Homo sapiens: one gene and its partners. The protein of the gene in region 2 purifies or fractionates together with the protein of the main gene of each other region. This does not show direct contact. Each region holds a gene or a part of one and is shown on either strand. Other genes may lie near its edges. The genes, in order: MAP3K4, BTK, PLCG2 and ANKRD54.

Evidence for each region.
Region 1: the proteins of BTK (region 2) and MAP3K4 purify together in Homo sapiens (co-immunoprecipitation; 3 studies listed by BioGRID and IntAct, with this or other methods). This does not show direct contact.
Region 3: the proteins of BTK (region 2) and PLCG2 purify together in Homo sapiens (affinity purification with western blotting; 2 studies listed by BioGRID). This does not show direct contact.
Region 4: the proteins of BTK (region 2) and ANKRD54 purify together in Homo sapiens (affinity purification with mass spectrometry; 5 studies listed by BioGRID and IntAct, with this or other methods). This does not show direct contact.

The regions. Positions count from the first base shown.
Region 1 is NC_000006.12:161,113,740-161,117,885, forward strand, and holds the end of MAP3K4 (mitogen-activated protein kinase kinase kinase 4), read left to right. Parts: intron 1-1,383; coding exon 1,384-1,563; intron 1,564-3,110; coding exon 3,111-3,131; 3' UTR 3,132-3,641; downstream 3,642-4,146. UniProt on the Homo sapiens protein: Component of a protein kinase signal transduction cascade. Activates the CSBP2, P38 and JNK MAPK pathways, but not the ERK pathway. Specifically phosphorylates and activates MAP2K4 and MAP2K6.
Region 2 is NC_000023.11:101,355,169-101,362,202, reverse strand, and holds part of BTK (tyrosine-protein kinase BTK), read left to right. Parts: coding exon 1-30; intron 31-1,447; coding exon 1,448-1,635; intron 1,636-2,052; coding exon 2,053-2,115; intron 2,116-2,855; coding exon 2,856-2,910; intron 2,911-3,506; coding exon 3,507-3,586; intron 3,587-3,765; coding exon 3,766-3,893; intron 3,894-4,619; coding exon 4,620-4,694; intron 4,695-5,247; coding exon 5,248-5,419; intron 5,420-5,934; coding exon 5,935-6,151; intron 6,152-7,034. UniProt on the Homo sapiens protein: Non-receptor tyrosine kinase indispensable for B lymphocyte development, differentiation and signaling. Binding of antigen to the B-cell antigen receptor (BCR) triggers signaling that ultimately leads to B-cell activation.
Region 3 is NC_000016.10:81,936,286-81,943,319, forward strand, and holds part of PLCG2 (1-phosphatidylinositol 4,5-bisphosphate phosphodiesterase gamma-2), read left to right. Parts: coding exon 1-93; intron 94-1,472; coding exon 1,473-1,618; intron 1,619-2,515; coding exon 2,516-2,630; intron 2,631-3,606; coding exon 3,607-3,774; intron 3,775-7,034. UniProt on the Homo sapiens protein: The production of the second messenger molecules diacylglycerol (DAG) and inositol 1,4,5-trisphosphate (IP3) is mediated by activated phosphatidylinositol-specific phospholipase C enzymes. It is a crucial enzyme in transmembrane signaling.
Region 4 is NC_000022.11:37,834,328-37,841,361, reverse strand, and holds part of ANKRD54 (ankyrin repeat domain-containing protein 54), read left to right. Parts: intron 1-1,127; coding exon 1,128-1,175; intron 1,176-2,763; coding exon 2,764-2,862; intron 2,863-7,034. UniProt on the Homo sapiens protein: Plays an important role in regulating intracellular signaling events associated with erythroid terminal differentiation.

The DNA of each region.
Region 1 (4,146 bases), on a different chromosome or scaffold from region 2:
TTATATATTTAAATTGAAATCATTTTTTTTTTTACTTAGCATATGAGTGACTTTTTTTTTTTTTTTTTTTTTTTTTGAGATGGAGTCTCGCTCTGTCGCCAGGCAGGAGTGCAAGTGGCATGATCTCGGCTCACTGCAACCTCCGCCTCCCGGGTTCAAGCAATTCTTCTGCCTCAGCCTCCCAAGTAGCTGGGATTACAGGCACCTGCCACCATGCCTGGCTAAGTTTTGTACTTTGGTAGAGACAGGGTTTCACTGTGTTGGCCAGGCTGGTCTCGAACTCCTGACCTCATGATCCGCCTGCCTCAGCCTCCCGAAGTGCTGAGTGACATTTTTAAAGATTGAGAATACTATCTTTTAGAGAGTATATAAAGAAACACACATGTTTTGGACAGAAATTCCATGTGGTAGGGCTGCTCCGGAGACATTTCCAATCTCTATCAAAATTTTAAATGTGCATAGCACTTAAACCAAGAAGTTTTCTGCTTCTGAAAATGTATCTTATGATGATAATATTAATGAGCAGTTATACAAATGTAAAAAGACACGCATGAACTGCACATGGTAGCTTACCGTACACATACAGTATTATAGCAAAAAAGTTAGAAACCTTCATTTCTAAGTTAAAAGTTAGTGTTAAGTTACTAGTAGGAAATCAGTTAATTATAATGTAGCTATGCCTTGCAGCTGCTGAAACAGATCACATATAAGTGCTCAGTAAATATTAGCTAGCATTATTTCTATTAGCATTAAAATAGAAAGGCAGTTGTGATATCTGTGTTATTCCAGTAAAGCCACACATAAAAGAACAGGTTCTCATATTGAAGAATACATATTGGCAATGACGAAACAATAGTTTAGAAATTAGAATGCCATACACACTTAGTTCCTTCCCCTGTGAATCTCATTTTTCATAGGATCATAATGAAATAAGCTTTGCACTAATGCAATTTTTATTTTTCAATAAGGTAGCATATTAACCATCCCTATAAGAGAATTGGGTTTTATAGACTTTTTTATGTCATTTTATATATTTTTTAGTTGCATGATGATGGCTTCTAGATACTGTTGGACTAAATAGTGCACCCCAAATGGAGTAGGCAAACTATGCTGGCCACCTGTTTTATAAATAAAGTTTTGTTGGAACAGTCATATTCATTTATGTGTTGTCCATAGCTGCTACCATGCTGCCATGAGATTAGTGAATAGTTGTGATAGAGATCATATGGCCTGTCAACCTAAAATATTGTTTGGCCCTTTCAGTAAAAATTTGCTGTCCCCTGATATATATTAATGATGAGATGCTTAAAAACAGACTGAACATTTGCGTTGTTTGTGGCTGTGTAATATTAAAATCTGATTTTTTAAAAACATCTTTTTTAGAGGCCTTGGCATGAGTATGAGCACAACTTTCAAATTATGTATAAAGTGGGGATGGGACATAAGCCACCAATCCCTGAAAGATTAAGCCCTGAAGGAAAGGACTTCCTTTCTCACTGCCTTGAGAGTGACCCAAAGATGAGATGGACCGCCAGCCAGCTCCTCGACCATTCGTTTGTCAAGGTTTGGCAGATTACTGGATAGTCTTTTTCATGTTTAAGTGTTTAAGTTCTGTTTTGCATCAAGACGTTAATGAAATTTTGAAACTTTAAAGTAGCTATATCTGAAGTGGAAAGGAACTAAATGTATTATTATGCCAGGGATTTTTGTATGTGTTTTTTCATTTGGAAAATGTTCATTGAGGTTCTTCCACTTGATCTGTTTTGATGGTGCATTTAAGATACACCAGAGACAGTAAAATGGACTTTTAGATGGGACTGGATGAAAGAGTTTCCACTCTTGAGAGTGTATAGTCTACTTGGAGGGTCAAGACGGTAATGACTAATCATTATACTGAGAGCTGTGATAATGGTATATAAGGTTACTCAGAAGAGGAATTTAATTAAGTCAGCCAATCTCAGTTCTTTTTTCTCTAGAATGAGGTACCTTAGTTGTTTAAGAGCCACAGCCAGGTCAGAAGTGGGGGAGGGGGCATGGAAGACAAAGTAAAGAAACTTGGAAACGCTCACCCTTCCGGGAGAGTGGGATGGTCACAGAGCCCTGTGTAGGTAGATCCTGGTGAACACAGGATGTGGACAAGGGCAGGAAGATAAGGCTAGAACAGTAACCAGGAGCAACATGAAGGAGTTTCCATTTTATTATAAACATAAATGATGACATAGAGTTTTAGAAAGATCACTCTAGAGGCAAAGGAATTGAGAAGGTTCTGATACAGCCAAGGGGTTGGGAGAGGGCGTTCCGGGTGAGTGAACAGCGGCATTTAAGAGTTAGAGTGCCGTGGCTGACCCCTGATTGGATGTGAAAGGTGAGTGAGGGGAGGAGTCTAGAGTGGCTCCCAGGTTTCTGGTTTGTGTCATCAGGTCACAGACTCTATTTGCCAGGGTAGGGAAAGAAGCAGCTGGGTGAGGGGTGGGTCGGGAGGTGGTGGGTCCTCTTTGGTGGATGAAGCTTGGGGTACATTTGGAGCATCTGCTTGGAGATTTCACATGGGCATTTGGATACCTGGGGCTGGCACTCAAGAGGGATTTTGGGTAGGGCACAGGTGTGGGAGACAGAAGTATTGCTGGGAGGGTCCACAGAGGACAAGGGGATGAGAACAGAGCCCTGGAGAAAAGAGCCTTGCAAGGGCCCTGCAGGAGAGAGTCCCTGGGAAAGGAAAGGAAGGGGCAGAAGAGTGGGGTGATGCTCTTATTGGTAAGTGGGAGTAAGGGGCAAGCAGCAGGATCAGCTATGGAGACATTAGGGATTTGTAATTAAATAACAATTTATGTCTTAGTTATGAAGTGCATAACAATTTATATTGACCTGAGAGTGCATATAGGCGTTTTAGAAAATGCTTTCATTAGTCAGTTCCCAGGCTTAACTTTAGAGCAGTAACTTACCTCTGCCATTGTTCATTACATTTCTTAAGCCTTGCCCTCTGTGCCCAGTACAGTGCTGGGAGCATCAGGATGAGTGGATGGGGCCTTCCCCGTAAGACTCATACTGCGCGTATGCACAAGCACACACCTGGCTCTGCAAGAGCTCAGCTCTCTCCTGCTTCCTCACAGGTTTGCACAGATGAAGAATGAAGCCTAGTAGAATATGGACTTGGAAAATTCTCTTAATCACTACTGTATGTAATATTTACATAAAGACTGTGCTGAGAAGCAGTATAAGCCTTTTTAACCTTCCAAGACTGAAGACTGCACAGGTGACAAGCGTCACTTCTCCTGCTGCTCCTGTTTGTCTGATGTGGCAAAAGGCCCTCTGGAGGGCTGGTGGCCACGAGGTTAAAGAAGCTGCATGTTAAGTGCCATTACTACTGTACACGGACCATCGCCTCTGTCTCCTCCGTGTCTCGCGCGACTGAGAACCGTGACATCAGCGTAGTGTTTTGACCTTTCTAGGTTCAAAAGAAGTTGTAGTGTTATCAGGCGTCCCATACCTTGTTTTTAATCTCCTGTTTGTTGAGTGCACTGACTGTGAAACCTTTACCTTTTTTGTTGTTGTTGGCAAGCTGCAGGTTTGTAATGCAAAAGGCTGATTACTGAAATTTAAGAAAAAGGTTCTTTTTTCAATAAATGGTTTATTTTAGGAAAGCTCAGTTATATTGTCTTTTAATGGTTAACACTTATGAGCCAACGCAGTATGATACAGAAGTCTGTCATTTTCACTCATCTGTTCCTCAAAAGGAGGAGCACAATCACGTGTGCTAAAGATGGTCACTGGGTTCGGCGTCTCTTTAGGATCGCCTCGCTGAAAAGCAAAGGAAATAAATGAAGCAACACTAATGACGTAAGGTGGTTCCTTTTAAGTAGTTTCTATTAACCAGCAAGTTTATAACAGATACAAGTTTAAGCCTTGTTATCACATGTTGGGAGTTCACTTTATTTTTAAACCAAGATGTTTAGGTGCTAGGTCAGTGTAATTACTGCTGAATGATCTGATGAGAAAGCATCTTTTTCAGAAGTAAACATTTCAGCATTTAGCTTTCCAAAACAGCCCAAATTATACATCATTGGTGTTTTTTTTGTTTTTGTTTTTGCTATTAAATTTTTTAAAAAGATTGACCATAGAGCTTCCTGAAATCTTTTTGGAAGATCA
Region 2 (7,034 bases):
CCTCTTCCCCCAACGCCTGAGGAGGACCAGGTATACAGGGAAACTGGGTGCTGCCACTGCTTAAATGGAAACTTATAGTCAAGCCCTAAGAACACACTAGAGTCTTAGAATTACCCTGGGACTTGGCAGTGTTAATTGGTATTCTTGCTAAGATGGGGGATTTGTTCTTCTAATTAGGATTTCCTCCTCGATGGAAAGATAGAAGGCTCTCAGCAACCATGTAATCCAATCACCTGTTTAGAACAAAACCTGATTTTTTTAATGTAAAGTTTTTGTTGTTGTTTTGTTTTTGCTTTTGTTTTTGTTTTGAGACGGAGTCTCGCTCTGTCGCCCAGGTTCGAGTGTAATGGCATGATCTCGGCTCACTGCAACCTCCGCCTCCCAGATTCAAGTGATTCTCCTGTCTCAGCCTCCTGAGTAGCTGGGATTACAGGCATGCACCACCACGCCCAGCTAATTTTTGTATTTTTAGTAGAGATGGGGGTGTCACCATGTTGTTCAGGCTGGTCTCGAACCCGCCTCGGCCTCCTAAAGTGCTGGGATTACAGGCGTGAGCCACCGTGCCCAGCTGGAAAGTATTTTCAAACATACAGTAAAGTTAGAAGAATTTAACACTTAATACCAACATACTCAACACTTAGCACTAACACCACCTATCACTAACACTTCAGAAGTTTTTTTTTTTTTTTTGGTTCCTTCTTGAGGGCTAGAAAGCCCTTTCTCACATATTGTAAGTAAGTAGAGCAGGTATTATTATACTCATTTTACAAAGAAGGAAACCAAGGTTCTGAGCCACTTAGTAGATTCACGTACAAGTTTAGTGCCAAGCCGGTTTCCTGACCTTAGCTATAAATGGTTTTTGTCTAGTGAGCTTTAAAAATAGTAATGTTTGGGTCCCATTCCTGAGAGTTTGATTTTGATGTAATTGGTCTGTGAGGAAACTGACTAGGTATTGGAATTGGTTTTTTGTTTTTTGTGGGTTTTTTTTTGAGACAGTCTCACTCTGTCACCCAGGCTGGAGTGCAGTGGCGTGGTCTTGGCTCACTACAACCTCCGCCTCCTGGGGTCAAGTTATTCTCCTGCCTCAGCCTCCTGAGTAGCTGGGGCTATATGCACACACTACCATGCCCAGCTGATTTTTGCATTTTTAGTAGAGATGGGGTTTCGTCACGTTGGCCAGGCTGGTCTCGAACTCCTGGCCTCAACTGATCCGCCCGCCTTGGCCTCCGAAAGTACATTGGAATTTAAAAGTTCCATACATGGTCTTTATATGTGTGCAAGGCTGAGAACTCCTGCACTGGTGCTTAAAAATGGTTGTTGAATGACTGCTGAGTAATATTTTAGTATGCCTGATTTGGGTGTCTTGAGTAAGCCAGAGAGTTGGGAGAGAAGAGAAGAGTGCTTGGTATCTTGACAAACCCTCCTACCTTTTCTCCTAACTACATAGATCTTGAAAAAGCCACTACCGCCTGAGCCAGCAGCAGCACCAGTCTCCACAAGTGAGCTGAAAAAGGTTGTGGCCCTTTATGATTACATGCCAATGAATGCAAATGATCTACAGCTGCGGAAGGGTGATGAATATTTTATCTTGGAGGAAAGCAACTTACCATGGTGGAGAGCACGAGATAAAAATGGGTGAGTCCACACCAGCCCTTCCTGAGCCTGGTGCCTGCCCACTCCCTACACGCAAAAAGTGCTGCGGCATAATTCCCGTGATCAGCATCCTCATCAGAGACTGTTCTTCCCACACCAGACTGAACATGCTCTCCCTCCAAGTACTTCCCAGCGTGCAGCTCCCTATACATGGCCTCTGCCACATCTCTGAGCCTCTGTTGTTGGGCACATATAACCAATGCAACATGTGCATAAGCTCTGCACCTCACTGGCTCACTGCCTAACCATGCATCAGAGACATGATTGTCTTTGAGGGAGGTGCATGATACATATACCTCCATTTGAGATTTGTTCTGAGCTCAGGGACGTGGGCATATGAATCTGTCTCCTGGAGGCTGGGGAGGTGCTGGATGAACTGCCACATTGTTTCCTTCACAGGCAGGAAGGCTACATTCCTAGTAACTATGTCACTGAAGCAGAAGACTCCATAGAAATGTATGAGTAAGTATGTTTATGTCAGTCCACAATCTTCCAGGAGGAACTCTCTCTCTCTATATATATATATATTTATTTATTTATATATATTTTATATATATTTATATATATATATAACACACACAAGTGTATATATGTATACATATGTATACATACACTGGTGTATATATAGGTATATTATGTATACATACACAAGTGTGTATATATATATATACACTTTTTTCTACTTTCAACATATTTTTTATTTCAAGATATATATTAAAATTAGTACCATCTGAATCAAATGATGCCACCACCTCAAATTAGTGTATCTGTCTTACCTTTACCCCCCAAACACCCTCCATTTATGAGAGCTGGAGAGGTCACCATGCCCTCAAATCCAGAAGAATCACACTCAAAGAAAAAGGAGTTGACGACCTGATGAAAGAATTAAAATGTCAAACTGCTACTGTTGTCCTTTCCTCCCTAATCATGGAAGTGGATTGTTCTCAAGTGCCCTAGTCCCTGATCTCTTCCCTGCAACTCCCTGCTGCTTGCCTTTGCCTGCTACTCTCCATTTCCATGAATCTTCAATGCCAACCTGGGTTTGGGAAAGGGATACAGTGTGCTATGCACATGACAGATGCTCAGTAAATAGGGTTTGAGTGAGTTGACTGAATCACTGACATGGACAAGCCCTGGAGGGTGCTGTAACCTCCAATCTGCTTATGACCAGGAGCCACTCAAGCAGCACTCTCCCTTCACAGGTGGTATTCCAAACACATGACTCGGAGTCAGGCTGAGCAACTGCTAAAGCAAGAGGTAAGTGTGGAACCACTAGCACACAGCATTCTCCTTGCATAAGTGAGGATCTTGAACTGAGGGCCTGTTCTGCCCCCTACCTTTGGGCAAGGCAGTGTCAAAGCTGCCATCGTCTGGGATCCCAATTACACCATTTTTTTTGTTTTTGTTTTTCTGAGACGGACTCTCGGTCTGTCACCCAGGCTGGAGTGCAGTGGCGTGATCTGGGCTCACTGCAACCTCCGCCTTCTGGGTTCAAGTAATTCTCCTACCTCAGCCTCCCAAGTAGCTGGGATTACAGGCACATGCCACCACGCCCGACTAATTTTTGTATTTTTAGCAGAGACGGGGTTTCACCATGTTGGCCAGGCTGGTCTCGAACTCCTGACCTCAGGTGATCCGCCCACCTCGGCCTCCCAAAATGCTGGGATTACAGGCATGAGCCACCATGCCCGGCCTGCACCTTTTAATATTAAAAGCAATGAGGCTGTAGCTCAAGCGTGGAACTTGGCAGTAAAATCAGGGGTTGTTCTATTTTCTCTCTCAAGTTTGGGCAGGTGGGATGCAGGTGTGAGCACCACTTCCTCCTACAGACAGCTTCTTTTTCGTTGTTTCAGGGGAAAGAAGGAGGTTTCATTGTCAGAGACTCCAGCAAAGCTGGCAAATATACAGTGTCTGTGTTTGCTAAATCCACAGGGTGAGTGCTACTATTCCAAGGCCCTGAGGACAAAGAACAGGGGTACCCTCCTAATAGCTCCTTGATGCTGTGCCCGTCCCACTTCCTCTGTCTCTGAAACTCAAAACTCATCTCACTTCACTTCCTGGGTTCTGTTGACCTTTGTGCCCAAGTTACTGACTAAGCATCCACTTCTTCAGGGACCCTCAAGGGGTGATACGTCATTATGTTGTGTGTTCCACACCTCAGAGCCAGTATTACCTGGCTGAGAAGCACCTTTTCAGCACCATCCCTGAGCTCATTAACTACCATCAGCACAACTCTGCAGGTGAGTACCAGGGGCAACTGAGAAGGGAGTTACAGACACCAGGATAAGCAATGCAGGACAAGGTGATAAGAGGAAGAATCTGCCTCACAGGACAGTGTGAATTCACTGTGAAAGGAAATCCCTGTGATACTGGGTAGAAGCTGGTAAAGAGGTGGTCAGAGGCAGACCTACACCCAACAGGGACTGACTCTTTATTTGGTGATTGATGTTCAGTGTTAAGAGAAGACACAAAAGAGGCTGGTGACTGATTCATCAGCAAGTATTCATTGAGTTCCTACTGTGTACTCAGCGATTTCCTCAGTTCTAGAGGAGAACACGGGAACATTCTGAGTCGAGGTCCTTGTCCTCAAAGAACATACAGGTTAGACAACATCAGAAGAAAGTTTATAAGCACTGTAAAATTTCTAAAAACTGAGACATTAGTGAGGGCATGGATATGGGGGAACAGCTTCATCAAGAAGGTAGGATGTGAGCTAAGCCTGGGCTGGGAGGTGGGAATATATTCAGTTAGGCAGTGTATTTCAATTAGTATTTTCTCTTTTTTGTCCCTGAAAAGTATTTTGTGAGAGGAGAAACCTCTGGAAATATGTGGGTTCATGGAGGTCTTCTGGGATTCAAAATGTACTAGAAAGATACACACCGGAAGTGTGAGGCTTTAAGTGAGGATGTGTGAGGCATCCCACCTCCTACACCACACCAACAGCATGACCTCTCTCTCTGTTTCAGGACTCATATCCAGGCTCAAATATCCAGTGTCTCAACAAAACAAGAATGCACCTTCCACTGCAGGCCTGGGATACGGTAACTCCTTATTTCTCTGGGGTAGGGTGGACTGGCCAGTTGCAAAAACTACCTTTGCTGGCCTTGCCTTAGGGAGTGTCCTTGAGGTACACTGTTCTGCAGCAGCTGCCTCAAGGACGCTCAAGACAGATCCAAGCAAAAGTTATTCACTGATTTTCTTCCTCTAGTGGCTACGACTGGGACTGCAAAAACATAGATTCATAAAGGGCTTTGTCGTTGTCTTGGGTCTTTTTGTCTTTTATTTTTAATTGTGGGAAAATTTTCAGTACTATCCCTGAGTTCATTAACTACCATCACTAACATAATCATAAAGGGATTTGGGGAGGTTGCTTAGTCTATCTTCTTGCCTTATGGCCACCTTGAACCTAAAATTCCCAGATTCCTCTAACCAATGAATCCCGTTTCTGAGATTGACTTAAGCAAAGACAGATTAGTACTTCTAAAAATTTCCCTTTTACTAGTTTTCCTATTTCTACCCCAGTAGGGATTTTTGTCTATTGTAAGAATTATACATTCATGACCCCAAAGAATCACACCAAGACTTTATTGTTAGGATCATGGGAAATTGATCCAAAGGACCTGACCTTCTTGAAGGAGCTGGGGACTGGACAATTTGGGGTAGTGAAGTATGGGAAATGGAGAGGCCAGTACGACGTGGCCATCAAGATGATCAAAGAAGGCTCCATGTCTGAAGATGAATTCATTGAAGAAGCCAAAGTCATGATGTGAGTTATAGCCCAAACTCAACTCTCAATCTATTTGCTGGAGTCTAGGAATTCACACAACAACCCACTGAGGCTTAAAGATGACTTACAGTAAGAGAGGTTTGGGACGAGGGACTGAAGTTTACCTTTAACTGGCGGTAGTCCTAAGTGCTAAGATAATAGTTTCTGTGCCTTAGATATTGGTTGAGAATAGTGGTGATCATGGGTGTGTACCATCTCAGTAGCATTTGGGGGTAGATGTAGAAAATTAAACTTTCAAGAGAAATATTCTAATTTAGCCTTAGCGTTCTTTCATTCCTGGACTTGTTTCTTTTTCAATTGATGGGCTCCAAATCCCTGCTTGCTTCCACATTTTAAGCACTTTTGAGATTTAGGGTGGGAAAGAGGAAAATAAACTTGCTGGTGTGACCCCTTATCTGATGCTCTACTCCTAGGTCAGCCCCTTCCTCCCCAGCCCCTTTATTGCTATTATGCAGAGCCAAAAGGAGAAGACTAGTTCCTTGCCTTTCCTGTAGGAATCTTTCCCATGAGAAGCTGGTGCAGTTGTATGGCGTCTGCACCAAGCAGCGCCCCATCTTCATCATCACTGAGTACATGGCCAATGGCTGCCTCCTGAACTACCTGAGGGAGATGCGCCACCGCTTCCAGACTCAGCAGCTGCTAGAGATGTGCAAGGATGTCTGTGAAGCCATGGAATACCTGGAGTCAAAGCAGTTCCTTCACCGAGACCTGGTGGGACCTTAGAAGGATTGGCCTAGGACAAAGGGCTGATGGGGTGGAAGTAGCAGTGGAAGATATATCATACATGGTTGAGGGGGGCTGCTGGTGCCATCATTTCAATTTTATCTAGAAAGTACTATAAGTTAGGCGTGCCTCTGCCCCAGTGCTGAGCCCATCAAATATCTCCAGCCTCAGCTCCATGAAGTCTGCCGTGGTGGGAATCAGAGCAGTCACTCACTCCCAACCCCCTACCACCCACAAGAAAATGGTGGGGTCTTTCAGTGGCCATTCTGGATTTGGAACAGAAGGGACTGTGCTTCCCAATGGGACTGCTCCTGGCATGGGGCCATCATTTGGTTCCTTCAGAGTCACATACTGGGGCCTGTGGATGCATTTGGCCCACATGTGTGGGTTTTTTTTATGTTATATAATAATTAGCAAACCCTTAAAAAGAAACATTTCGCTTAAAAAAAAAAAAACCCTGGAATTTCCAGCTTCTCTTGAAAATCTACACCGTCTGGAAATACCAGGTCCACATTCTCACGAACCGCCTCCTTTCCTCTAGGCATGTACTCTCCATTTCCTGCAATCTCGATCCACTTCACTTCACTCTTACTTAACTTGCCTGGCCCCTGTAAGCATCAGAGTTTGCGCCCCTGTTTCTTTCAGTCAGGCCAAGGCTCAAATTGTCCTAGTCTCACTGGCAGAAAAGCAGAAAGCAAAAAAACTTACTTCTCATTCTCCCTTCTTTGTTTTTTGTTTGTTTTGTTTTGTTTTGTTTTGTTTTGAGATGGAGTCTCGCTCTGTTGCCCAGGCTAGAGTGCAATGGCACCATCTCGGCTCACTGCAAACTCCGCCTCCCAGATTCAAGCAATTCTCCTGCCTCAGCCTCCCA
Region 3 (7,034 bases), on a different chromosome or scaffold from region 2:
CAAAGGGACAAAGAGTTGACTCTTCAAACTACGACCCCTTCCGCCTCTGGCTGTGCGGTTCTCAGATGGTGGCACTCAATTTCCAGACGGCAGGTAAAGGCCGACTGAAGGTAGTCCCGTCCCTGCAAGGTGGCGGTTGCAGTCACTCCAGGCCGAGTCACCTTGGGTCAGCGATACCATGTGGTGTCCAAGAATGAGTGATTTGTCCGAGGGACTGCACGGTTCAGCAGAGTAATGGTTAGTATGAGGTCCAGCAGCTGAATGGAGGGATGAGAGGACCGAAGGCTGCTTGGCTTACGCAGGCTTCGTGATTGTAAGTAAGTGACAGAGGCTGAGTTAGTCTGGCTTAGAAAAAGAAAATGCATTAGTTCATGTAATTAAAGCATCTTTGGAGTTCTCTTCTCCAGGCCTGTTGCTGTGTGAGGGCTTTCTGCTCAGACTTTCTTCCAGAGACATTTACATGCTGGCATAACTAACATACACAAACTTCTGGACACAAAGTGATCGCATAAATCACGGGGCTTTGTGCTTTTGTTGTTGTTATTTAAGACCTCTTTCGAGGGATCTATTCATCAGTAGCCTCCTTTACATTCTTTTTATAGCCACATCGGATTCCACAGAATGGAACAATCATTTATTTAATAAGTCCCCGTGGAGGCACATGTAGGTATTCCCCATTATTTGCTGTCATAGACAGCACTGCCTTCTGTACCCTGACGTGAGCGCCATTCCACAGATGTAGGAATATGTCTATGGGACAGAATTCTCAGAAAGGCAGGGTGGGTCAAACAGCGCTTGCATTTTGATCAACTTTGCCCTGAGGAAAACCACTGAAGACGTGCCTGAGCTAAGCCACACTGCCAAACTGCCCTCCATAGAGATCGTGGGCGGGGATGCAAATAGGTGGAGGTTGGAGTACGCTCTTTTGGTATGACTTCGCTGAGTTTTGTTGAACTTTTTGCCGTTTGCACAACTGAGAGGTGAAAACTGATACATCGTCGTCCATTAGAGCTTCTTCTTGTAAGGGACATTAACCAGTTTTTCCCTCATTTAGGGAGCAGTGGCATTTTCTTTTCTGGGAACTATTTGTGCTTCTTACCTGATGTATCTACTGCAGTAGGTATTTATAGCATAGATGTATCAGAACTAAGAGGTTAAAAATTTATATTCACATATTTGTCATTTGAATTAAAATTGCCTATGCAATTTATTGCTACATAGACACTTTTAGCAAGTTTGAATCTTTTCTTTTATGATTCGGGATTTGGTGACATACTTGGAAAGGTGTTCCCCAGTCTGGGAGTTTGCTGTCTAGAAACCCTATATTTTCTTTGAGTGAGATACCTATTTGAACAGCTGCCTCACATTAATTTGGGGAAAAGGTGAAATTCATTCCCCACCTAGAAACTCCTGGCCTAGGGGGCCAGCGTGCTCATGCCTGACTTACAGCAGGCGTTCACTTTCCTTCCCAGATAAGTACATGCAGATGAATCACGCATTGTTTTCTCTCAATGGGCGCACGGGCTACGTTCTGCAGCCTGAGAGCATGAGGACAGAGAAATATGACCCGATGCCACCCGAGTCCCAGAGGAAGATCCTGATGACGCTGACAGTCAAGGTAAAGCCAGCCCTCCCTTCCTGCCAGGGGAGCCAGCCGCCCTCCCTGGGGGCTGGGCCGATGCTGTCTTGAGAGCAGGGAACCCATGTCTAGGGAGGCTGGTTGTCTTGTTTAAACGATCCCCATTCAGGCAGTGTTTGAGGATCTTTCTTTCTTACAGTACACTCCGGGGTCGTTCTGGGAGAAGAGGGAAGAGAGGGGAAACCTCCTCAAACCCACTTCCCCTTGTCCTCTGTGGGGGTGAGGTATGACCCTATCTTTCTGGGGTCCTGGTGAGGTCAGCCTCTGGCCGGAAAGAGAAAGAAAACATGGGAAACAGCCATTTGGTCTTAATGGAGAAGTTTTTTCCCTTACTTTGTCCAATTCCAGGGCTTTTTAAAATTCATCTGACTTTCAGAGAAAGTGTTGTTGCTTTGTAAGAATTTTTGAAAAGTAGAGAAATGAATTGCATTTCTCCTAAGGTTAAGGGCGGGCGGGTGGTAGGGGGAAGAAGCATACGTAAACACAGGCCTTTAAATAAACAGCAGTTATAAAAAGAATGCCACACTGTTCCTCAGCCTTTCCTAGGGGTGTGGAAATCCAGTGATTAAGCTCTGCCTTGATCAGAGGCACCTGCTTGGGCATGGATGTGTGCATTCATGAGCTCAGGTGAGTTTTACCTGTTGAGTCAGGTGGCATATGGGGCCGAGACCCAGGCTGATGCTGAGGAACTGTGGGATCTACCACAGTCCACCTTCATCCACTGCAGAAGGTTGCTCCGGCTTTTCCAGTGAATCTAGGAAAATTAGGGCTGGCATTGAACTCATCCAGTGTCACTCTAGAACCCAGCTGCAATCCACGCTAGGCTGCCTGTTCAGGACCCCAGGGGGGTTCCAATGCTTCCCTTTGGTGTCCCAGGTTCTCGGTGCTCGCCATCTCCCCAAACTTGGACGAAGTATTGCCTGTCCCTTTGTAGAAGTGGAGATCTGTGGAGCCGAGTATGACAACAACAAGTTCAAGACGACGGTTGTGAGTAAGTCAGTCACCTTGGCCCCTCTGCTTTTAAACGTCCGGCCAGTGAATCCTTTGTGGGAGTGCTCTTCGTGGGGGATTTTGCAATGCTCTTTAGTTGTCCCAGGGTTTTCTTTCCTCCCTCTTGCCCACATGGTTCAGCTTGAGGAGGGGATACATACAAAGGGCCACTTTCTGAAATCCTTAGACTTTCCCCAGTGCTGTTTGCCTGCCTGTAACTCAAGTCCGGAATCGTAGGTGAGGCCCTGACACTAGGTTGGTCCTCTCTGTGCAACAGCCCAATCTGATTAATCTCCTGAGTCAAAGGCCAAGAGGCAGAGACACAGAGAGAGGGGGTGAACCTACGTGGCTGACCTGACCCAGAGGATCAGCCTAACCTGGGAGATCTTAGCCCCTAGAGGGCAGGAGGGACAAGAGGAATGCTTGCTCTTCCAGGAAAAGCCAGGAGGGAACCGTGATTGGTGGGCCTTCTAAAGCACAGGATCCTTGCCCCTGGTAAAAAGTAGCCCAATGAACAACTCAGATGCTGACCAAATAAACTGGCATTTATGGAGAGTGGCAGGATTGCTGCTTGCCTGCTCTGTGAGGCTGGGCTCTCCCCTGCCAGCTGTAGAACCCCCTGCTGGTGGATGTGGCTCCCAGGCTCTCCTCCCCTTTTGTCTTTTCCAAAATCCACCTTCCTGCTCTGCAAACAAACACCTCCCCCGTTCCCTTGTCCCTGATCCTGGGGCGGGGAGATGGGAGGTGGTCTCCTTCCTCTGCTCACCAAGGGACCAGCCTGCAACAGCAGCTTCCAGGATTGCTCAAGGTGGGGTGGGGGAGTGAAGATAATTATTCAGATTTTCTTAGATCTTGGCATAGATGCATATTTATTTACATGGTTGCTAAGGGGATTCACAGCTGAAGGATGCGGAGATTGTCTTACCAGAAGGGGGCAGCTCCAATGTGGCCTCTCATGAGCTTTGATCTCCTTCCAGATGATAATGGCCTCAGCCCTATCTGGGCTCCAACACAGGAGAAGGTGACATTTGAAATTTATGACCCAAACCTGGCATTTCTGCGCTTTGTGGTTTATGAAGAAGATATGTTCAGCGATCCCAACTTTCTTGCTCATGCCACTTACCCCATTAAAGCAGTCAAATCAGGTAAGAGGCATTTTAATTAAGATGTTCGATTTGGGCTGGCGTTGTACTTTGGTTTGGCTGCTGGCTTCAAAAAGAATGAAAAATGATTTTTCCTGGTTTGGATGGAATCACTGTAAAACCGATTGGGTGGCTTGGAGAGCAGGTGTACAGCCTGTCGTGTAGCACACAGGTGGGAGGAAGTGGGTGACAGGGGAGGCTATGCCCCTCAAAGTGGGATGTTTACAAGCAAAACTGGATTGTTAGTGGATCCTCAACCTGGCACTGCAGTTTGATTTCATTTTGAAATATTACATGCGGTTTGCTTCTCCCTAGCTAGGGCTAAGTCTGGTTTGATCTCCCCCTCCTGCTCTCTGGCTGGCAGTGTGAGAGGGTGGCAAGGGAGAGACCTTTGGCATCTTGGGGGGGGAGTAACAATCTCGAGGGTCCAACTCCCCAAACCCTTCAGAATTCACCTTCTTCTTCTATAAAATTGGGTGGGTTAATTTACTTCTTTGAGTTGTTACAGTTTTCTTCCCTGCTGAAGAAAACACAAGATCCCTTCATGGTATAAGAAGGGTCATTTTGTATTTTTCTGCAACCAAGCCAAGCTGGGTCATACGACCAGCTCTTAAGAACCCTGCTGAATCCCAGATGACTGAGCCCTTCCTACACAGCTGAGATAGACACTTCCAGGTGAGGGGATTTGGGACCCTGCTGCTTCTAGAGCCAGTCATTTACAAAAACAAAAAAAACTGGCTCTCCTTAGCTTCTATATAGTTTCTCTAGTTTACTTTCCCACTGGATCTTTCCCACTGGATTTTAGGTATAATATTTGACAAATAGGCCCTTGCTGGATGTTGAATTTTCCTTCTTCCTCTTCCTTTAGTATTTCTGATGCATGGTGCATGAGATATGAGATCATAGATTCTTCTGGATTCCTCAAGAGGTCACTGTTCCCTTGTTTTCTGAGGATCATTTTTCAAGAGAAAGATGACTGTCATTTTAGTTACTTACATAAAAAAATACAGTCTTTTGATATTGTTTGGAAACGTGGGGCTCAATGAAGAGCTGAATTGGATCTTTTTTGTTTTCAGACATTCCCTCAACTTCCACCTTTTTTTGTATAATATCATAAACCTGACCATTTCTGCTACTGGGCAGGAGCCCAGTTTCTGAGCAGCAGGCATGCTAGAAAATCCAGGTGCTGGCCGGGCACGGTGGCTCACTCCTGTAATCATAATCCCAGCTACTTGGAAGGCTGAGGTTGCACCACTGCACTCCAGCCTGGGTGACAGAGCAAGACTCAGAAGAAAGTGCAGGTTCCTGGACCCACCACAGGGTGATGAGTCAGCCCAGGGTGGGGCCAAGGAATCTGCATCTTTAGGCAGCTCCCCAGATGGTGCTTGGATGGCACTTTGACAGAACCAAACTATGTCAAGGCTGCCTATCTTACCATTGAGGAAATGAATTCCTTAGCAAGTTACTAGATGAAACAAGACTTTGGGAAAATGTTTAAAGTTTCTGATTTTTTTTTTTTTTTGTACTCTAGAAATGTTCATTTTCATGAACATTGCTACTCTAGCAATAATAATGAGTATTCATTTGTAAGAGGCCTGATATTTGGCAACCCTTCTGGGTTAACTCACCCACACTGTAAACTCCCCCTTTTTTTTTTTTGAGATGGAGTCTTGCTCTGTCGCTCAGGCTGGAGTGCAGTGGGTGATCTCGGCTCACTGTAACCTCTGCCTCAGCCTCCTCAGTAGCTGGGACTACAGGTGTACACTACCACATCTGGCTAATTTTTGTATTTTTAGTAGAGACGGGGTTTTGCCATGTTGGTCTGAAAAAAAGTGATGGGATTAAAGGAGTGAACCACTGTGCCTGGCCTATAAACTACTTTAAACCCGGCACTGATCAGGGCTGTGATTCCTTAATTTGCTTCTTTTAGATTAGTCTAATAAGGCTTAGGAATGACACCAATTCTTCTGGTGCAGGAAGTGTAGCTTTTGGTACACCTTTACGTTCCTAGCCTTGACGCTGTAACAGATTTCTTTTTATGGTAACTGCCTGCCAGTTCCTCTACTGAACTCATCCAGCAGAGAGGGGCAGCTGTGCTGAAACCCCTTGGTTACCCCGACGTCCTCTTGAAGGATGAGGGCCTTGAGCCTCATAACCCCTCCCAGTGCCTTGCAGAGATGTCAGAGTTGATGATAAAACCTCGTTACCTTAATGGGCATCAAAGTGTGTCAATTCATCTGCAGAATGCAATGACTTAGCTTGGAGATTTGGAAAAAACAAAGGTCAAAACCTCAAGGGAGATTAAAAATGTGACCTTCTCCTCCCCCGACTGTGAGATACTCTCAGCAGGGACCTTTCCTCACTTCTTTCTAGCTCCTAGCAGTGCCTGGCACATCCATATTCATGGGAGGAATGAAATAGAATGAACAGGAGGCATTGAGGGTCTTCCATACTGAAAAAATAAACTTCACCCATTGTCATTAGAGATGCACTGAAGCTTTTAAACCAGTTGGAGCGCAGGAAGGAAAGCAGCAGCCTTTATTGTGTTAGGTACCTTAAACTCTTTCTCTTTTAATCCTCACAGTAATCCTGTGAAAGGGGTTTTATCTTTGGTTTTAAAATTCTGAGCACTTTGAGGCCGAGAGACTATGACTTAACTTGCTCAAGGTCACACACCTGTAGGACCAGAGCTGAGATTCAAACCCAGGAATGTCTAATTAATTTCGAACCCCGTGTTCCTCCTCTGCAGGCTGCCCTCTCACTGGGTGCTCAAAGCCAGATGCATTGATCTTACTTTAAAAGGTGTCTGTATTTCCCTTTCCCCAGTGAAATGACTAGAAACAAGAAGAAGAAAAACAATTATTTTTTTTTTTTTTATACAAGGAGGGCTGCCCAGTGCATAAAAATGGGACTTGGGCAGCGAGAGAAGGTACATAGAGCTGGAGACAGCTGGTCATGAGGGCAGAGCTCATGTCTCCGATTTAAGAGGCACACGCCTAGTGTCAGATAGTACTGTCCAGCCTGGAACCATGCTATTGGAGTGTAGGGGCTACCTGATAGCCTCCCGGAATGCCATGGAGCAAACAGTCATTCCAGTTCATTCTAACAGTCAATCAGCAGCTAGACTGTATTAGTCCGTTCTCACACTGCTATAAAGACATACCTGAGACTGGGTAATTTATAAAGAAAAGAGGTTTGATTGGCTCACAGTTCTGCAGGCTGTACAGGCTTTTGTTTCTGGGGAGGCCTCAGGAAATTTACAA
Region 4 (7,034 bases), on a different chromosome or scaffold from region 2:
TATAGACAAGGTTTCACCATGTTGCCCAGGGTGGTTTCAAACTCCAGAGCACAGGCAATCTGCCCACCTCAGCTTTCCAACGTTCTGGGATTACAGGCGTGAGTCACCACGTATGGCTAGTTTTGTATTTTTAGTAGAGATGGGGTTTCAGCATGTTGGCCAGGCTGGTCTTGAACTCCTGGCCTCAAGTGATCCACCTGCCTTGGCCTCCCAAAGTACCGGGATTATAGGCATGAGCCACTGCGCCCAGCCATTGTGGCTTTTTTTTTTTTTTTTTTTCCTGAGACAGTCTCACTTTGTTGCCCAGGCTGGAATGCAGTGGCGTGATCTCATCTCACTGTAGCCTCCGCCTTCCGGCTTCAACCCATTCTCCTACCTCGGCCTCCTAAGTAGCTGGTGTTACACGTGCACACCACCACACCCAGCTAGATGGCTGGGTTTTTTTTGTTGGTTTTTGTTGTTTTTGTTTTTTTCTGAGACAGCGTCTCACTCTGTCACCCAGGCTGGAGTGCAGTGGCGCGATTTTGGCTTACTGCAACCTCCATGTCCTGGGTTCAAGTGATTCTCCTACCTCAGCCTCCAGAGTAGCTGGGATTACAGGCATGTGCACCACACCCGGCTAATTTTTTTGTATTTTTAGTAGAGATGGGGTTTCACCATGTTGTCCAGGCTGGTTTTGAACTCCTGGCCTCAAGTGATCCACCTGCCTCGGCCTCCCAAAGTGCTGGGATTACAGACGTGAGCCATCATGCCCAGCCAATGGCTGTGTTTTTTTTGTGTGTGTTTGTTTGTTTGTTTGTTTTGAGACGGAGTCTCACTCTGTCACCCAGGCTGGAGTGCAGTGGCGCGATCTCTGCTCACTGCAAGCTCCACCTCCCAGGTTCACGCCATTCACCCGCCTCAGCCTCCCGAGTAGCTGGGACTACAGGCACCTGCCACCACGCCCGGCTAATTTTTTTGTATTTTTAGTAGAGATGGGGTTTCACCATGTTAGCCAGGATGGTCTCGATCTCCTGACCTTGTGATCTGCCTGCCTTGGCCTCCCAGAGTGCTGGGATTATAGGCATGAGCCACCGCACCCAGCCATGGCTGTTTTTTTAAACTGGCATCCGTTACTCTCTTTACAGCTCTGAAGAGACTGAGGGACTCGGCCAATGCCAATGATGTGGAAACAGGTGAGTGTGCACAGTAGGTCCAGCTACAGGGTCCCATGGGCTGGTTGGGGAAGGAAAAGGCCAGGTAATCAATATGTGGGAAGGCAGTCTGCAAACTCACGCCCTTGGAGCAGGCTCACTGTATTTATTGTCTGACTGTGCAGTCATCTTGCTGAAGGTAAGTCTGGCTTAGACACTCACTCTCCCCATGCTCCCCTGTCACTTTGAACTTCCTGATGTCATAGCATTTACCACCCTGTGGACTCCTTGATGGTGGAGACCATGTATACTTTTGTATCCCTGGCAGCCAGCACAGTCTTCTGCAAAGAGTAGGCACTAACTTTGGAACTTGTGGTTAATGGGAGTGAATACTCAACTTAGCTGCCACGGCCAGGTGAGGTGGCTCATGCCTGTAATCCCAGCACTTTGGGAGGCTAAGGCAAGAGGATCACTTGGGCTCAGGAGTTTGAGACCAGCCTGGACAACATAGGGAGACCTCGTCTCTACAAAAAGTAAATGTTAGCTGGGCGCGGTGGCTCACGCCTGTAATCCCAGCACTTTGGGAGGCCGAGCTGGGCAGATCACGAGGTTAGGAGATCGAGACCATCCTGGCTAACACTGTGAAACCCCATCTCTACTGAAAATACAAAAAATTAGCCGGACGTGGTGGTGGGCGCCTGTAGTGCCAGCTACTTGGGAGGCTGCGGCAGGAGAATGGTGTGAACCTGGGAGACAGAGCTTGCAGTGAGCGGAGATGACGCCACTGCACTCTAGCCTGCGCGACAGAGCGAAATTCTGTCTCAAATAAATAAATAACATAAGAAAAAAATTTTTTAAAAATGTTGTGGAAATTAGAGAAATATATAAGAAAAAATCCATGTCCGCAAAGGAACTAATCTGTTAATATTTTGATGAATATCCTTCAAGGCTTCTTTCCTATACACTGGAATTTTCTTTATGGGCTGGCTTGCAAACTGCTATATACACATGCTGTAGCCTGCATAATTTTTTGTGTATCATAAACATTTTTTCGGGCCGGGTGTGGTGGCTCACGCCTGTAATCCCAGCACTTTGGGAGGCTGAAGTGGGCGGATCACCTAAGGTCAGGAGGTCGAGACCAGCCTGACCAATATGGTGAAACCCCGTCTCTACTAAAAATACAAAAATTAGCTGGGGGCTACTTGGGAGGCCCCAAGTAGCTGGGGGATTGCTGCCTGCTGGGAGCATAGCATAGGCCAATAGCTTGGGCAGCTGTTTCCAGCCAGAATGGATGTGTATCCAAGCCGAGGTCACGGGAGGGGGACCACTGTCTATGCTAGGGATTCCTGTGACCCTAAAATTTCTGACCCTGAGGGCCTTGAACCTCCTACGATGTTCTATCACTAGACGTGTAGTTTGAGCACTCAGAATCCATGGCCTTCAGTTGTGCCCTCAGAAGAACAAGTTGCTTGTTCCCATAGGACCAGCATCTAGGAAGGGCTGCTTTCCTATGCATTGTCGATGTCTTGTCTAGAGGCACCCCTGAGCCTCCCTCTCCATCGCTCGGGTCTGCAGCTTAGCTAACATCGCCGCTTTCTCCCCCTTCCTCCCTCTGTCTTGGTGGTGTCAGTGCAGCAGCTGCTGGAAGATGGCGCGGATCCCTGTGCAGCTGATGACAAGGGCCGCACAGCTCTACACTTTGCCTCATGCAATGGCAATGACCAGATTGGTGAGTCCTGGGGAGGGAGGAGGGAGTAGGGCTAGGCAAGTAGTGTCTCTGCACAGGCCTTGGGGGAGGCGCTGCTGTCTGCACAGCCTTGGGATGCCCAGTTGTTCTGGATATAAGGAAGACTTGGCACTGCAGTGCCCTGCCCTTCTCCCTCTGTTAGCCTGTGGAACTGGCAATGTTAGACTGGGGCAGGGTAAACCTGGGGGAGATAATATGATTGACTGAGGATGAAGGGATATCTCCAACTAAGAGACCACTGGAGAGTGCAGGGCCCAGGCCTTCAAGACTTTCAGGTAACATTTACTCAGTGCCAACCACAGCAGCAGGACAGCTTTTCTCTTTTTATAGGAGTCTTTTTTTTTTTTGAGATGGAGTCTCGCTCTGTCGCCCAGGCTGGAGTGCAGTGGTGCCATCTCGGTTCACTGTAAGCTCTGCCTCCCGGGTTCACGCCATTCTCCTGCCTCAGCCTCCCAAGTAGCTGGGACTACAGGCACCCGCCACCATGCCTGGCTAATTTTTTATATGTTTTTAGTAGAGACGGGGTTTCACTGTATTAGCCAGTATGGTCTCGATCTCCTGACCTCGTGATCCACCCGCCTCGGCTTCCCAAAGTGCTGGGATTACAGGCATGAGAGACTGCACCCGGCCACACCGGTTAATTTTTTTGTATTTTTTAGTAGAGATGGGGTTTCACCATGTTGGCCAGGCTGGTCTTGAACTCCTGACCTCGTGATCCACCTGCCTTGGCCTCCCAAAGTGCTGGGATTACAGGCGTGAGCCACTGCACCAGCCTTGCATACTTTTACTCAAAGTTATCTCCATGAGATTCACCCATGAATACTGCCTATATCAGTACAGTCTTCCCTCAGTGTTCTTGGGATTGGTTCCAGGACCCCACTCAGATACCAAACTCCATGGATGCTCAAGTCCTTTGAAGTTGGCCCTCCATATCCTCGGGTTCTGAGTCCAGGGTTCATTGAATCTGTGGACACAGTATTCACAGTTAGGGAGGGTGGACTGTAGTTAGTACTTTCTTATGCTGGTTTGTATTTCATTGTGATATACCCCATTTATCCATTCTACTATTGACGGACATTTGTGGTGTTTCCAGGTTTTAGCTTTATGAATGAAGTGTTGTGAACATTCTTGTATATGTGATTTGTGGCTGTAAACACTCATCTATCCTCTATAAACCTAGGAATGGCATTGTTGGGTCACTAGGGTACACATGTATTTAGCTTTAGTAGGTACTACTAAACCTTTTCCCAAAAGGGATGTACTGACACACACTCCCACTCCCCACCAGCAGTGTAAGAGTTCCACCTTTCCCTACGTCCCTGCCAGTGCTTGCTGTTGTCTCTCTTTAATCTTAACCCTTTTGGTGTCTCATAGTGGTTTAATTTGCATTTCTCTGATGGCCAGTAACGTTGAGCACCTCTTCATGTGTTTATTGGCCTTTTTTTTTTTTTTTTGAGACGGAGTCTTGCCTGTCGCCCAGGCTGGAGTGCAATGGCGTGATCTCGGCTCATTGCAACCTCCACCTCCTGGGTTTGAGTAATTCTCCTGCTTCAGCCTCCCGGGTAGCTGGGATTATAGGCACGCATCATCACACCCAGTTAATTTTTGTATTTTTAGTAGAGACAGGGTTTCACCATGTTGGCCAGGCTAGTCACAAACTCCTGACCTCAGGAGATCCACCTGTCTCGGCCTCCCAAAGTGCTGGGATTACAGGTGTGAGCCACCATGCCCGGGCCATTTTTTTTTTTAAACTTTAAGTTCTGGGATGCATGTGCAGAACGTGCAGGTTCGTTACATAGGTACACCTGTGCCGTGGTGGTTTTCTGTACCCATCAACCCGTCATCTAGGTTTTAAGCCCCTCATGCATTAGGTATTTGTCCTAATGCTCTCCCTCCCCTTGGCCCCCACCCCCCGACAGGCCCTGGTATGTGATGTTCCCCTCCCTGTGTCCAATTATTGACCATTTTTACATCCTCTTTTATGAACTATATGTTCAAATCTTTTGTCCTTTTTTTTTTTTTTTTTTTTTTTTTGAGACAGAGTTTCACTCTTTGTTGCCCAGGCTGGAGTGCAATGGCGTGATCTCGGCTAACCACAACCTCTGCCTCCCGGGTTAAAGTGATTCTCCTGCCTCATCCTCCCAAGTAGCTGGGATTACAGGCATGCGCCACTACGCCCGGCTAATTTTGTATTTTTAGTGGAGACCGGGTTTCTCCATGTTGGTCAGGCTGGTCTCGAACTCCTGACCTCAGGTGATCCACCCGCCTCGGCCTCCCATAGCGCTGGGATTACAGGCGTGAGCCACCGCACCTGGCCTCTTTTGTCCATTTTTTTAAAAACAAGTTTTGCCTGGGCGCGGTATCTCACGCCTGTAATCCCAGCACTTTGGGAGGCCGAGGCGGGTGGATCATGAGGTCAGGAGATCGAGACCATCCTGGCTAACACGGTGAAACCCCATCTCTACTAAATATACAAAAACTTAGCCGGGTGTGGTGGCGGGTGCCTGTAGTTCCAGCTACTCGCTGAGGCAGGAGAATGGTGTGAAGCCGGGAGGCGGAGCTTACAGTGAGCCGAGATCGCGTGACTGCACTCCAGACTGGGAGAGAAAGCAAGACTCTGTCTCAAAAACAAACAAACAAACAAAAAAAACTAGTTTTCTGTCTTTTTCTTTTTTTGAGACAAAGTCTCACTCTGTCATCCAGGCTTACGTGCAGTGGCCTGATCACTGCCCACTGCAGCCTCAATCTCCTAGGCTCAAGCAATCCTCCTGCCTCAGCCTCCCAAGTAGCTGGGACGACAGGTGCACACCACCAAGCCCAGCTAATTTTAAAACATCTTGTAGAGACGTGGTCCTGCTATGTTACCCAGCTGTTCTCTAACTCTTGGGCTCAGGCGATCCTGTCACCTTGGCCTCCCAAAGTATTGGGATTACAAGCATGAGCCACTGCGCCTGGCCTTTTTCTTATTGATTTGTAAGAATTCTTTGTATATTCTGGTTAGAAATCATTTATCAAATATAAATGACTTGATTTTCTGAGCTTGCTGTTTCATTTTCTGAGTGGTATACTTTGATGAACACAAGTTCCTAATTTTATTTTTATTTATTTATTTATTTATTTGAGACAGAGTCTCACTCTGTTGCCTAGGCTGGAGTGCAGTGGTGTGATCTTGGCTCACTGCAAGCTCTGCTCCCCAGGTTCAAGCTATTCTCCCACCTCAGCCTCCTGAGTAGCTGGGATTACAGATGCGTGTCACCACACCCACCTAATTTTTTATTTTTAGTAGAGATGGGATTTCACCATGTTGGTCAGGCTGGTCTCGAACTCCTGACCTCCGATGATCCACCCGCCTTGGCCTCCCAAAGTGCTGGGATTACAGGCGTGAGCTCCTGTGCCCTGGCCTATTTTATTTTTTATTTTTTGGAGACAGAGTCTCGCTCTGTCACCCAGGCTGGAGTTCAGTGGCATGATCTTGGCTCCCTGGAACCTCCACCTCCTAGGTTCCAGCAATTCTCCTGCCTCAGCCTCCCAAGTAGCTGAGACTACAGGGGTATGCCACCACACCCAGCTAATTTTTGTGTTTTTAGTACAGACAGTTTCAACATGTTGAACAGCCTGGTCTTGAACTCCTGACCTCAGATGATCTGGCTGCCTTGGCCTCCCAAAGTGCTGGGATTACAGGCATGAGCCACCGTGCCCAGCCATGTTCTTAATTTTAATGAATCCAATTTATCAATATTTCTTTCCTTTCTCTTTTTTTTTTTTTTTTTTTTTTTTTTTTTTTGAGACAGGGTCTGTCTCTGTTGCCTAGGCTGGAGTGCACTGGCACCATCTCGGCTGACTGCAACCTCGACCTTCTGGGCTCAAGCCGCCCTGCCACCTCAGCCTCTCAAGTAGCTGGGACTACAAGTCTGCCATCACTATGCCCAGCTAATTTTTGTGTTTTTAGTATAGAGAAAGGGTTTCTCCATGTTGCCCAGGCTGGTCTTGAACTCCTGAGCTCAAATGATCCACCTGCCTCGGCATCCCAAAGTGCTGGGATTAACAGGCCTGAGCTCCCATGCCTGGCCTTTTCTTTCCTATGGTTAGTATTTTTGTGACCTATTTAAGAAATCTTTGCCTGCCCAAGATGTTCATGTTCTTCTGGAAGCCTG